Linked DNA regions of Homo sapiens. The protein of the gene in region 1 interacts with the protein of each later gene in a pairwise test. Each region holds a gene or a part of one and is shown in the gene's direction. Other genes may lie near its edges.

Region 1 (7,039 bases):
CTGAGGGTTTATTTCTGGGCTCTCTCTTCTGTTCTGTTGGTTTGTATGTCTCATCTTTATGCCAGTACCACATAGTTTTCATTATTGTAGCTGATATGGCTTGGATCTATGTTCCTGCCCAAATCTCATTTCCAGTTGTAATCCCCAATGTTGAAATGGGGCCTGGTTGGAGGTGACTGGATCATGGGGGCAGTTTCTCATGAATGGTTTAGTATCATCCCCCTTGGTACTGTCTTTGCCATAATAGGTGAGTTCTCATGAGATCTGGTCGTTTAAAAGTGTGTGGCACCTCCCCCACCCTCTCTCTTGCTCCTGCTCCTGCCATGTGAAATGCCTCACTCCCTCTTTGCTTTCCACCATGATTGTAAGTTTCCTGAGGCTTTCCCTGAAGCCAAGCTGATGCCAGCATCATGCTTCCTGTACTGCCTGTGGAACTGTGAGCCAATTAAACTTTTCTTTATAAATTACCCAGTCTCAGGTATTTCTTTATAGCAGTGCAAAAACAGAACAATACATTAGCTTTGTAATATATTTTGAAGTAAGGAAGTGTGAGTCCTCCAACTTTTTTCTTTTTCAAAATTGTTTTGGCTATTCAGGGTCACTTGAGCTTCCTTATAAATTTTAGCTTAATTTTTTCTATCTCCACAAAAAACATGATTGGGATTTTGATAGGGATTGCATTGAATCTATATAAATTACCTGGGCTGTTATTCATATCTTAATATTTTATGTCTTTCAATCCATGGACATGGAATGTCTATTTATGTCTTAATTTATTTTAGCAATATTTGTAGTTTTTAGTGTACAAGTCTTTCACCATCTTGGTTAGGTGTACGCCTACATATTAGGTTGGTGCAAAAGTAATAGTGGTTTTTGCCATTAAAAGTACTGGCAAAAGCCGCAGTTGCTTTTGCACCAACATAGTATCTTAAGTCTTTCACCATCTTGGTTGAGTTTATTCCTAAGTATCTTAAACTTTTTTTTCTGTACATGTTCAGAGAAACTTCTTTAGTCATAAACTATAAAAATGATCCCTGAAAGTATAATTTTGATGCTATTTTAAGTAGAATTGTTTCCTTAATTTCCTTTTGGGATTTTTATCATTAATGTATAGAAATGCAACTGATTTTCATGTTGATTTTATATCCTGAAACTTTGTTGACTTTATTCTAATAGGTCTTTTTGTGTGGACTCTTCAGGGTTTTCTACATACAAGATCATGTCATCTGTGAAGAGATATAATTTTACATCTTCCTTTACAATTTGGATGTCTTTTATTATTCTTCTTGCCTAATTGCTCTGTGGGCATCTTCTTGTTCTTTATCTTAGAGAAAAAGCTTTCAGTTTTTTGAGTATGATGTTAGCTGTGGGCATTTCTTATATGGTGTATGTTAACTGAGGCAGTTTCCTGCTACTCCTAGTTTGTTGAATGTTTTTATTATGAAAGGGTATTGAATTTTGTTAAATGCTTTTTCTGCAACTATTGAGATGATTACGTGCTTTTTTTCTCTCATTCTGTGTATTATGCTGATTGATGATGAATAATTCTTGCCTTCCAGTTATAAAGCCCATTTGGTCATGGCGTACAATCCCTTTAATATGTGTTTTTTTTTTTTTTGAGGCGGAGTTTCGCTCTTGTTGCCCAGGCTGGAGTGCAATGGCGCGATCTCGGCTCACTGCATTCTCCACCTTCCGGGTTCAAGCGATTCTTCTGCCTCAGCCTCCTTGTAGCTGAGATTACAGGCGTGCGCCACCATGCCTGGGTAATTTTGTATTTTTAGTAGAGACGGGGTTTCTCTATGTTGGTCAGGCTGGTCTCGAACTCCTAACCTCAGGTGATCCACCCCCAACCTCGGCCTCCCGAAGTGCTGGGATTACAGGCATGAGCCACCACGCCCGGCCTAATGTGTTGTTGAATTCAGTTTGCTAGTATTTTGTAGTTTCCTCCTGGTTGCACCTCATCCTCACTATGTTGGATATGGGGAAGGGCAGGGATGAGTGCACAGAATGCCCCAAATTTTATTACCCCTTTCACTGGAATGCCTTCTTGGTTTTATGGCCTGGGTGCTGTAGTTTCTTAACTGTTCTCTAGAGTTCTCACAGAAGTAGTTCTGTTCCATATATTGTTTTATTTCTGAGGTGTATAACTGGACTTAAGTATAGATTTGGAGCCATAATATACATGGTAATTAAAGCTCATGAAGAGAATGAAAATATGTAGAATGAGAAGGAGGCCTCATATAGACCCTCAAGAATACCAACATTTAAGAGCTGGATTAAAGAAAAATTAGAAGGAACATCCAAAAATGGGATAAAACCAAACCAGGAAAAGTTTGTATCATAAAATCCAAGCAAAGAGTGCTCAAAGGAGTAAGCAAAAATAACACATATATTTTGGGAACTGTTGTAAGGACTTTTATATGTATTCTTAAAAATTAATCCTTTCAAGAATCCTATGTAAATTTTGTACTATTTTAATCCTCCTTTTATGAGATGAAAGAAGTGAAGCAGAGAAATCATGCAGCTAGTAATATATAAAAATGTTCATTATAGCATTATTTGTAATATCATAAAATCAGAAATTACCTAAAATCTATCAGTTGGGGGTTTAGTTAAATTGTGGTTTATGAAATGTAAAGAAGCCATTAAAAGAAAAAGGTTGGTCAATATGTATTGACAGGATTCCATAATATACTGTTGAGTGAAACACATTAGTTTCAATGTGTGGGTAATACTTTTTTAAAAAAAAATTTGTTTTGTTTGTGTATGTTGGCCAGTATGTGCATGGAAAGTGTCTGGAGGGATATACATCAGATTCATAGTAGAAATTTCTGGGAATTGAGCAGCACTTTTTCATTTTAATTGATTTACCCTTATTGTGATTTTTTTAGTATAGCATAAAAACATGTTTAAGATTTAGAGGATTCATTTGAGTTAGAAAATCTGAGAAAATTAAGTGGGTATGTATATTCTGTTATACAAAGACAAAGTGGTCAGTTTTACTAAGGCAAGATTTAGCCATGGGGAAGGATTTCATCTTCTTGAGATCAGACTCAGTATTTTGAGGAATACAATTCAGATTGCAATGGTTGAGGAATGAATAGGAGATGTAGAAATAATAAAGGTGCTAAATGCTATTACTTTCTAACTGCATGTCAAACATATTTAAAAATATTTAAATTGTAGGATAATCGAGTTCACATTGGACCAAAAATGGAAATTCGGGTCGTTACGTTAGGATTGGATGGTGCTGGAAAAACTACTATCTTGTTTAAGTTAAAACAGGATGAATTCATGCAGCCCATTCCAACAATTGGTAAGTATGAATATTGGTTTTTACCTTAATAGACAAACCCTAGCTTACAGCCAAGTTCTTGGGGTCTTATTTGATACTGATCTGTCATGGTGGTGGGCTCTTTTCTGGCTCTAAGATATCAGCATCTCAGAGAAAAAATGCAAGATTGTATGACTATGGGATTGAAATGTGGATGGGGATAAAAAGAAGAAACAGAGTATTGGTGGGACAGTTGGAAGGAATAGAGGATTGGTGATCCTGGCTGAGGGTGTGGGGTGGGGGGTAGTTGTGGAACAGAGCTGGAAGGTACATGGATCCCAAGGTCCTAAGGACCTTGGTGGAGGTTTAGAGGGCTAGGAGCTGTTACAGGTATACATTCACCACGTAGGAGTAGGAATGGGGTTGATTAGGCTTCAGTAGATATTGCTGCATGTAGATAATTTGATAAGTCACAGTTATAAACTGGGGGTTGTCTGTGTTTGATATGTCATTCATTGTAAATACAAATATAGTATAAAAGTAACTTTTTTTTTAAAACAGGTTTTAACGTGGAAACTGTAGAATATAAAAATCTAAAATTCACTATTTGGGATGTAGGTGGAAAACACAAATTAAGACCATTGTGGAAACATTATTACCTCAATACTCAAGGTGAGAGTTAAAAATGACATTTAATTTTTCACATTTTTAGGATGACAGTTTTCAGTGTACTGATTTAACTAGCAAAGCTGATACTTATGATTAAGTCGTTGACTGTATACTTAAGTACCTGTGGCCAGTTTCTTAACTTGTAAAAAATGAAAGTAGAAAGATTAGGATATATACTTTTAGTTTATTCCTGATATACCATTATTACAGAATAAAAACCATACGTAGCTTAGATATGTAGTCAGTTAAGAGTACTCTTGCTTCTCTTAACAGAGAGTGTATATTACCAGTATTATATGGGTGTGACTGCTGGTAGCGTAGTGGTATAGAGTTGAATTTATGTTGTATGATTCTGCTGAATTCAGTTAAACTCAACATTTATCCCATTATAATCTCACTATAGCCCCACTCCCACATTTCTTTCACAAATAGTTATTACCTGCAGAAGAACTTACAGTAGCTTGCTTTTGACCAAACCGTATTATATCATATCTATACTCTACATAGGTTTTAGTCACATTTGGGTCTTACTCTACACTTCTGCCTCATAGACCCCAACATAATGCTTACGCTCATGCCGCTTATTCTGTATGTTATTCTGCTTTCCACCAAGATGAGAGACTGAATAATTATTTTTACTTTGGGATTTTTGATATTATTATGAGCCATAATTAATAGAAAAAATGTATTTTTTTTTTGAGACAGAATCTTGCTTTGTTGCCCAGGCAGGAGTACAGTGGCATGATTGCATTTCATGGTCACCTCTGTCTCCTGGGCTCAAGCAATCTTCCCACCTTAACTTCCCAAGTAGTTAGGACTAGGTATATGCCACCACATTCAGCTAATTTTTTTTTTTTTTTTTTTTTGAGATCGAGTCTTGCTCTGTCGCCCAGGATGGAGTGCAGTGGTGCGATCTCGGCTCACTGCAAGCTCCGCCTCCCAGGTTCACGCCATTCTCCTGCCTCAGCCTCCTGAGTAGCTGGGACTACAGGTGCCCACCACCATGCCTGGCTAATTTTTTTGTATTTTTAGTAGAGACGGGGTTTCACCATGTTAGCCAGGATGGTCTCCATCTCCTGACCTCGTGATCCGCCCGTCTTGGCCTCCCAAAGTGCTGGGATTAGAGGCACGAGCCACCGCGCCCGGCCACATTCAGCTAATTTTTAATTTTTTTTTAATAGAGATAAGGTCTCACTATATTGCCCAGGGGTCTCGAACTCCTGGGCTCAAGTGATCCTCTCACCTCAGCCTCCCAAAGTGCTGGGATTATAGGTGTGAGCCACTGTGCCCTACAAAAATGAAATTTTGAATATGAGGAATGGTTGAAAGTCTGGAGATAGTTAACTTAGACATAATACTTTGGAGAAATAAAAATGGTGATGGTTTTTATCTTTTAGTCTTTTATTCAAAGACTAAATATTAGAAAAGTAGTATTCGAAGAACAAGTAGCATCCATAGGTAGAGGATCATGAGGCATATTTTGAAATTCGTTATGTAAAAAGTTATTTGATATACAGACCAATTTGCATTTGATAGAGCAAGTGTTGTAAATCCTTTCCTAGATGGGGAAACTAAACCTGAGAAGTTATGTAAACTACTTGAAATCATACTGTTAATTATTTGTAGGTGCCCCTGCCATACTAGGCACCCTCTGTGTGAAAATAATGATGGTAGACAAACTCTAACCATAACATAATAATGATATCATTAAATATTTGGTTCATTTACTGAACTTTAGCAAGTGACTATTTTTGTTTTTTTTATTTTTTTTTGGGTAGCTGTTGTGTTTGTTGTAGATAGCAGTCATAGAGACAGAATTAGTGAAGCACACAGCGAACTTGCAAAGTTGTTAACGGAAAAAGAACTCCGAGATGCTCTGCTCCTGATTTTTGCTAACAAACAGGTAATGCATTTTTATATTGGAATATTTATTTTAGTAGTTTTGTGCATGTCAAAAGGCAACTGGAAATATTTCAGAAGACAATCAGTTCAATAGATATTTATAGTTTCTTCTGTGTATTTTGAGTACAATCTATGTGAAAATGCTGTGCTGGGTACCTGGGAGTATACAAAATAGAAATAAGGTAGTTAATGCTCACCAGAAACTCCTGTGTATGCATATGAACACATAAGAGATCTGAATACGAAGAAGACTGATAAGTAACTTAAGTAACACAGTGTTACGGGAATTAGGAAAGTAGTTCTAAATGTGGCATGTTGTAAGATTGTAAAATGTAGAATTTGAGTTGAAATTATGCATGAGGCTGAGTCAGTATGTGAAAGGAAGAACATTATAGACAGAGAAGATAATAGCATGAATGTTTTTAGTTTAGGGAACATCAAGCAGATCTATATGTCAGGTCTCAGTAGAGGATGAAGAGAATTTAGAATAACAGACAAGGCCATGCTGTAAAGGTCTGACAGTGCTAGACTGAGAAATTTAGGTTTTATTCTATGAGCAAGGAGGAGTCATCAAAATGTTGGATTAGTGGGTAATAAGATCATATCAGTGTTTCAATACTATAATTCTAGGGGTAGAATGAATCAGGGCAAAGGACTGGAGACAGGGAGATGCAGTAAATTGCTTAAATAATTCAAGTGAGCATTAACAAGAGCCTGAATTAGAGGAATAGAAAGGCGGAGGCAGATGGAAAAGACTTTGAGGCAGAACTGGTGACTGAATGGGGAGGATGAAGGACTGGGAGTAGCTGAAGATTCCTAGACCTTGAGCCTTTCTAGGAGGATGAGATGCTTTTAAGTAGAGGCAGAAGGAGAGTAGAAGTGGAGCAGAGGAGATGTCATGGGAGGGGAAGAGTAGGATGAAGAATAAAGAATTTTCCCCTTAATAAAAAAGGCAAACTATTAAGAACTGGTATATTTAAGACATGCAAATAAGTCAGTGAAATACCATTTTCTGCTCATCAGATAGTTAAAGATGAAAGTGTTTTATAATCCTCAGACTTATATACAACTGTTACTATTATTATTTTGAGACTGAGTCTTGCTCTGTCACCAGGCTGGAGTGCAGTGGCACAACCTCTGCTCACTGCAACCTCCCCCTCCTAGGTTCAAGCGATTCTTCTGCCTCAGCCTCCC
Region 2 (5,394 bases), on another chromosome or scaffold:
TAGTTTAATTAGATCCCATTTGTCAATTTTGGTTTTTATTGCCATTGCTTTTGGTGTTTTAGTCATGAACTCTTTGCCCATGCCTGTGTCCTGAATGATATTGCCTAGGTTTATGGTTTTGGGTGTTACGTTTAAGTGTTTAATCCATCTTGAGTTAATTTTTGTATAAAGTGTAAGGAAGGGGTCCAGTTTCAGTTTTCTGCATATGACTAGCCAGTTTTCCCAGCACCATTTATTAAATAGGGAATCCTTTCCCCATTGCTTGTTTTTGTCAGGTGAAAACCAATTTTTTAAGGCAAAAGATAAAAGAAGTTTCTTGTACTGATATTTGATGTCAGGGAAAAGGGTTGTGACAATGGATGTTTATTGTGCCTTGCCTTGAATGTGTATTGTACCTTACTGCTTTCAAAAAATAAAGTAGAAAAAAAAAGACAACATTGTTTATTACCAGTGTCAATATATGTGTTGACCTTTTTTTTTATTTTTATTTATTTATTTTTTTTTGAGATGGTGTCTCACTCTGTCACCCAGGTTGGAGTGCAGTGGCGCGATCTTGGCTAACTGCAACCTCTGCCTCCCGGGTTCAAGCGATTCTCCTGCCTCAGCCTCCCAAGTAGCTGGGATTACAGGCAACTGCCACCACGCCCGGCTAATTTTTGTAGTTTTAGTAGAGATGGGGTTTCACCATCTTGACCAGGCTGGTCTTGAACTCCTTACCTCATGATCCACCCGCCTCAGCCTCCCAAAGTGCTGGTATTATAGGCGTGAGCCACCATGCCTGCCTGGCCTTTTAACCCAAGTTACATTATAGAATTAAGCTAATAGTGTGTCTTGTGACCCCAGAGTTTTAACTGTGGAATTTCTGCCTCATTTGGGCCTTAACTTATTTGACTTATCGAAGTCTCTGCTTTAGCAAGTACTCATGATTCTTTTGAACTAAGTACACTAATAGAGTAGTACTATAGCCGAGCATGGTATGACATGCCTGTAACCCCAGCTACTTGGGAGGCTGAGGCAAGAGGATTTCTTGACCCCAAGAGTTTGAGACCAGCCTGAGGCAACAGAGCAGGACCCTGTCTCAATTTTTTTAAAAAACAGAATAATTTTTAAGAAAACATAAACCTCTTCTCTAAAAAGTGGGAGTAGTGAACTAATTCTTTCTAACACATGCAAATATTAAATGTTTCATATATATATATAGCCACTAGCATTAAAGGGTACAGGTAGGGCTTGATCAAAAACTTTGTTAATTCTCATAATTACAAAAGGAAGACACACTAAAACTGGCTTGGGGCTGCATTTGCTTGGAATTTGTGATCATTTAATTCATTTGAATACAGAAAGCAGAACTTAATTGGGTGGAAGGTTTTATTGTGTCTAAAGTGAAATATGAAAAAATATATTTTACTGCCTAGTTTATAAAGAGTAAGGTGATATTTATTTAAGGCCAAGATTATAAGACAGACGTTTTGTTCACATGGGTTTCCAGTGGAGATGGAGCAAGGGGAGTGGAGATGAAGGTAGAACTACAAAAAATGTTTATATACCATCTGTAATATTTTAATCCATTTCTATAAAATGTTTATCTAGAAACAGAATTATTTCCCTTTTTTAAATTTGTCTTTCTTTTTAGGCACTAACCAGGCTGTATCTGGACAAGGCCACCTTAATATGGAATGGAAATGCTGTTTCAGGGCTGGATGCCCTAAATAATTTTTTTGACACATTGCCTTCTAGTGAGTTCCAGGTCAATATGTTAGATTGCCAACCAGTTCATGGTAAGATCATGATCTTTCAAGATGCTTCCTTTGTTTTCCTCTAGTAAGCACTGAGCTTTTACACCAAAAGCAGCGAGAAACTTTTAGTGGTAGAACTATTTACTTACTTGAGCAAGTTAAATATTATGAAAAATGTAACTGTCCAGTCAAACTTTGGTCTTCCTTCAGATTCTTTCCACTAGTAGCTTTTGATGGATTATGTGATTTTGGCTTATTAAAAGTTGTATGAAAAGTTGAGATTAATGTGATTTTTGTAAATGGCAGGGAAAGATTATCTGATTTCTCTAAATAGTTGCCTGCTGGACCCTGAAATGTCTCCAGAGTAAAATTATACCATATCTCTGATTAATGTGTTCAGTATCTTACAATCTACTAATATTTCACAGAAATTTACTCTGTTATGTGAAAGGATGACTTTTTACAAGAAAATTTGATTCCAGGTAGATTGATACAGTTTAATAAAACCTCTAGGTGGGGTCCTAAGTGTCTTAAATTGTAGTTCAGGGTGATTTTTTTCCTTTATAATTCCTGAAAAGAACAATAGTTTAAGAAGCAAAGCATGAATAAGCTCTGTTAGAAACCTGAAATATTAATTCTGAAATATTTATATATATATGAAGCAAATGGTCCTATGCTAGATATAAGCTCCTCATTTTGAAACTAGAGTATCCCAAAGTTTTCTGGACTGAAAATAATTTTAATATCTTTTACTAAGTACTTAGTTTTCTGGGTTTGAGTATGCATGCTTAAGATTATGCTCAAGGGACAGAAAGTGTATGAAAAAAATTTTAAGCATTAGTCCATAAACAATGTATTTTAAGCCTGAAAATCTGCTTATTTAGAGATAGAAAATGATGTGTTCTCTTTTTTTTTTAATGTGGATGAAGAGCAAGCAACTCAGTCCCAAACTACAGTTCTTGTTGTGACCAGTGGAACTGTGAAGTTTGATGGAAACAAACAACATTTCTTCAACCAGAACTTCCTGCTGACTGCTCAGTCCACTCCCAACAATACTGTGTGGAAGATTGCAAGTGATTGCTTCCGTTTTCAAGATTGGTCTAGTAGTTAAAGGGGCAAAAGTCCATTCTCATTTGGTCCATTAGTTCCAGCAATTGAAATTTATGTGAATTATTTTGATTGTAGAAGCACTATAATATGTGCTGAAACTAAATTTCTTTAATATTTTCTATTCCTGTCAGCACCTTTTCTAGCAGCTGCCAGTTTGGAGCATTGCCCTCTAAGAGCTTTAAAACTATTTTTTTACATGCCTTATATACATTCCACTAATGACATTCTTATAATAATATTAAACACATGATCTTGGTACTAACATACTCACTGTGAACCCAGCCTATTGCAAAAATAAAATCTTTTTATAATATTATCTATGGGATGTCAGCACAATATAACACTCTGGGAAGAAGTGGAGTTTTTTGGTTATTAGGTTAATTTTCTAGTAAAACACGTTGCCTGTTTTCAGTTAACACTGGTAATGCCATTTTAATATATGGCTTTTTCAAATCAGTTCAGTGAAAATAGTACAGATTTAGGTTTACATAACTACTCTGACATACTGGAATTGCATATAGAGATGTTCAGTGGTCGTTTTTCATTTTAAGTAATTTTTGTTTTGGCATTTTTTTGTGTGAAGTAAATTAATCAACTAGAGAGGTGCAAAACGTTCTCAGTTGATATCTGAGTATTGGGTGCATTTGGTGGCTTAAAAGCAAAGCTTCCTAAAAAGATTTTTCTTGGCAGCTCCAGGTCTATACATTTAGGTAATGAATGGTAGTAGAACTAATAGCTTTAACAGGAGAATAGGGAATGAGAAATAGAAATCCAAGGCTGAAGCCAAAAGTAAGGAGGGTGGCCAAATGGTAAACTATTGGTACTTGTTTTCTACCTCCTAAAAATGTAGCTTATTTTTAGGATTTAAATCACTAAGTAAATAAGTATCCTTGCCAAGTGATCATGAGTGTCATTTTTGTTCTAAGACTAATATTTTTAGATCTTTTTACTTCACCTCATACTTATCACCAATGTATATCTCCATTTATTCAATAACTTACTGGGGTAAAATAACAGCAATAAACCTAACCTTTTAACAGGGTCTAACATGAGAGTTGGAGTCAAAGCCATTGTTATCTTTTGGTGACACCCTTAAATTTTAAGTCTTCCAGTCTTCCATGTGAACTTTAGGCCCAAAGTTTCTTATGTATCACACATCCCCCAAATAAGTGATTTTTTCCCAGTGCTTTGTACTGTCAACTGCATTATCTTTAATTATTTAAAGGTAGAATTATTTAATTTTGTGATTTGTTCTTCCATATGACATTGAGCAAATAGATCTGTTTCAAAATATGTTCCCGCTATGTGGATAACTCTTCTTTTTAAAAAGAAAATAGAGAATAGCAAATCTTCATGATAATCCTCAAAAGAACAAAATGCTTAACTTTATCTCTTAATTTCTAAAGGTAAATAACCTAGGTTCAGCTTTTGCTTAAACATTAAATATCTTTTCCATTTTTTAATGTTTGTAAGCTAGATATGCCAGCTTTGTTTCTACATTGCAACCAAAAACTGTTTCTTTTCACTTAATTATAAAACCAGTAATTCATTTACTCTTGCCCAAAACTATACACTGTATTTCTGTTATAGTAACAAAATAGAGTTATGTAGAATTGTATGGAACTCAAATTTAAACCATGCTTTCTTGTAGTACTGATTGAAACTTACACGTTTTATTCTACTCATAGTGAGCTTATTCTTATTTTGGATTGATTTTCCAAAACCACAGCTTCAGCAGCAACAATCAGAATGTCCAAATGCTGTCCTTTCCCTTACAGAGAAGAACAATGGTAACTAAAAGCTGCATATAACTAGCAATAACTACATTGAACGGTGTGCATTGTTCATGATTGTTGTGTTTTAAGACTTGTATATAAACTGCTTTTTCCAAACTCTGTATAACTTTTAAATGGCTGGAACTACTCGTATAAGGACTAGACTGTATTTTTGACATGCTCCTATTTTTGTAACTTGAAAAAATAAAATTTTGCCTTGTGACAGATTTTCTCAAGATTGTTTTAAGGTCTTTTGATTTTTGTTCTTAGGTTTCAGAATGGTTACTTGTTTCTTTACAATATAAGGTTTTTTAAATTTAGAAAAAAATTACAGTAGTGTGTTGACAACAATGGTTAACAACTTGGATCTTCTTTTGGTTCTTTCTGTAACCTGCCACATCTGTCTCCTTTTCCTGCCAATTATTCACATTCCTGAGATCATCACTTGTTTGAGATACCTGTAGGTTTTTGGTGAGAAGTTGGAAATCTTAACCTTGAGAAACCAGCTAAAATGCTATATTCGATAGGCAGTGAAACCAAAATACAGTTGATTTCCAGAAAGAATGGTTCATTAAATTTAATTCTACATTAAAAATATGTCAACACTACTGGGTAAATAACGAAATGAAGGCAGAAATAAAGATGTTCTTTGAAACCAATGAGAACAAAGACACAACATACCAGAATCTCTGGGACACATTTGAAGCAGTGTGTAGAGGGAAATTTATAGCACTAAATGCCCACAAGAGAAAGCAGAAAAGATCGAAAATCGA

What was found. Proteins that work in one complex are often made in the same cells at the same time.
Region 2: the proteins of TRIM23 (region 1) and NXT2 interact in binary tests that used the Homo sapiens proteins (3 or more experiments, as listed by UniProt).

Annotation. Positions count from the first base shown.
Region 1 is NC_000005.10:65,593,328-65,600,366, reverse strand, and holds part of TRIM23 (E3 ubiquitin-protein ligase TRIM23), read left to right. Parts: intron 1-3,186; coding exon 3,187-3,316; intron 3,317-3,835; coding exon 3,836-3,946; intron 3,947-5,721; coding exon 5,722-5,846; intron 5,847-7,039.
Region 2 is NC_000023.11:109,539,842-109,545,235, forward strand, and holds the end of NXT2 (NTF2-related export protein 2), read left to right. Parts: intron 1-1,633; coding exon 1,634-1,778; intron 1,779-2,665; coding exon 2,666-2,847; 3' UTR 2,848-4,857; downstream 4,858-5,394. UniProt on the Homo sapiens protein: Regulator of protein export for NES-containing proteins. Also plays a role in mRNA nuclear export.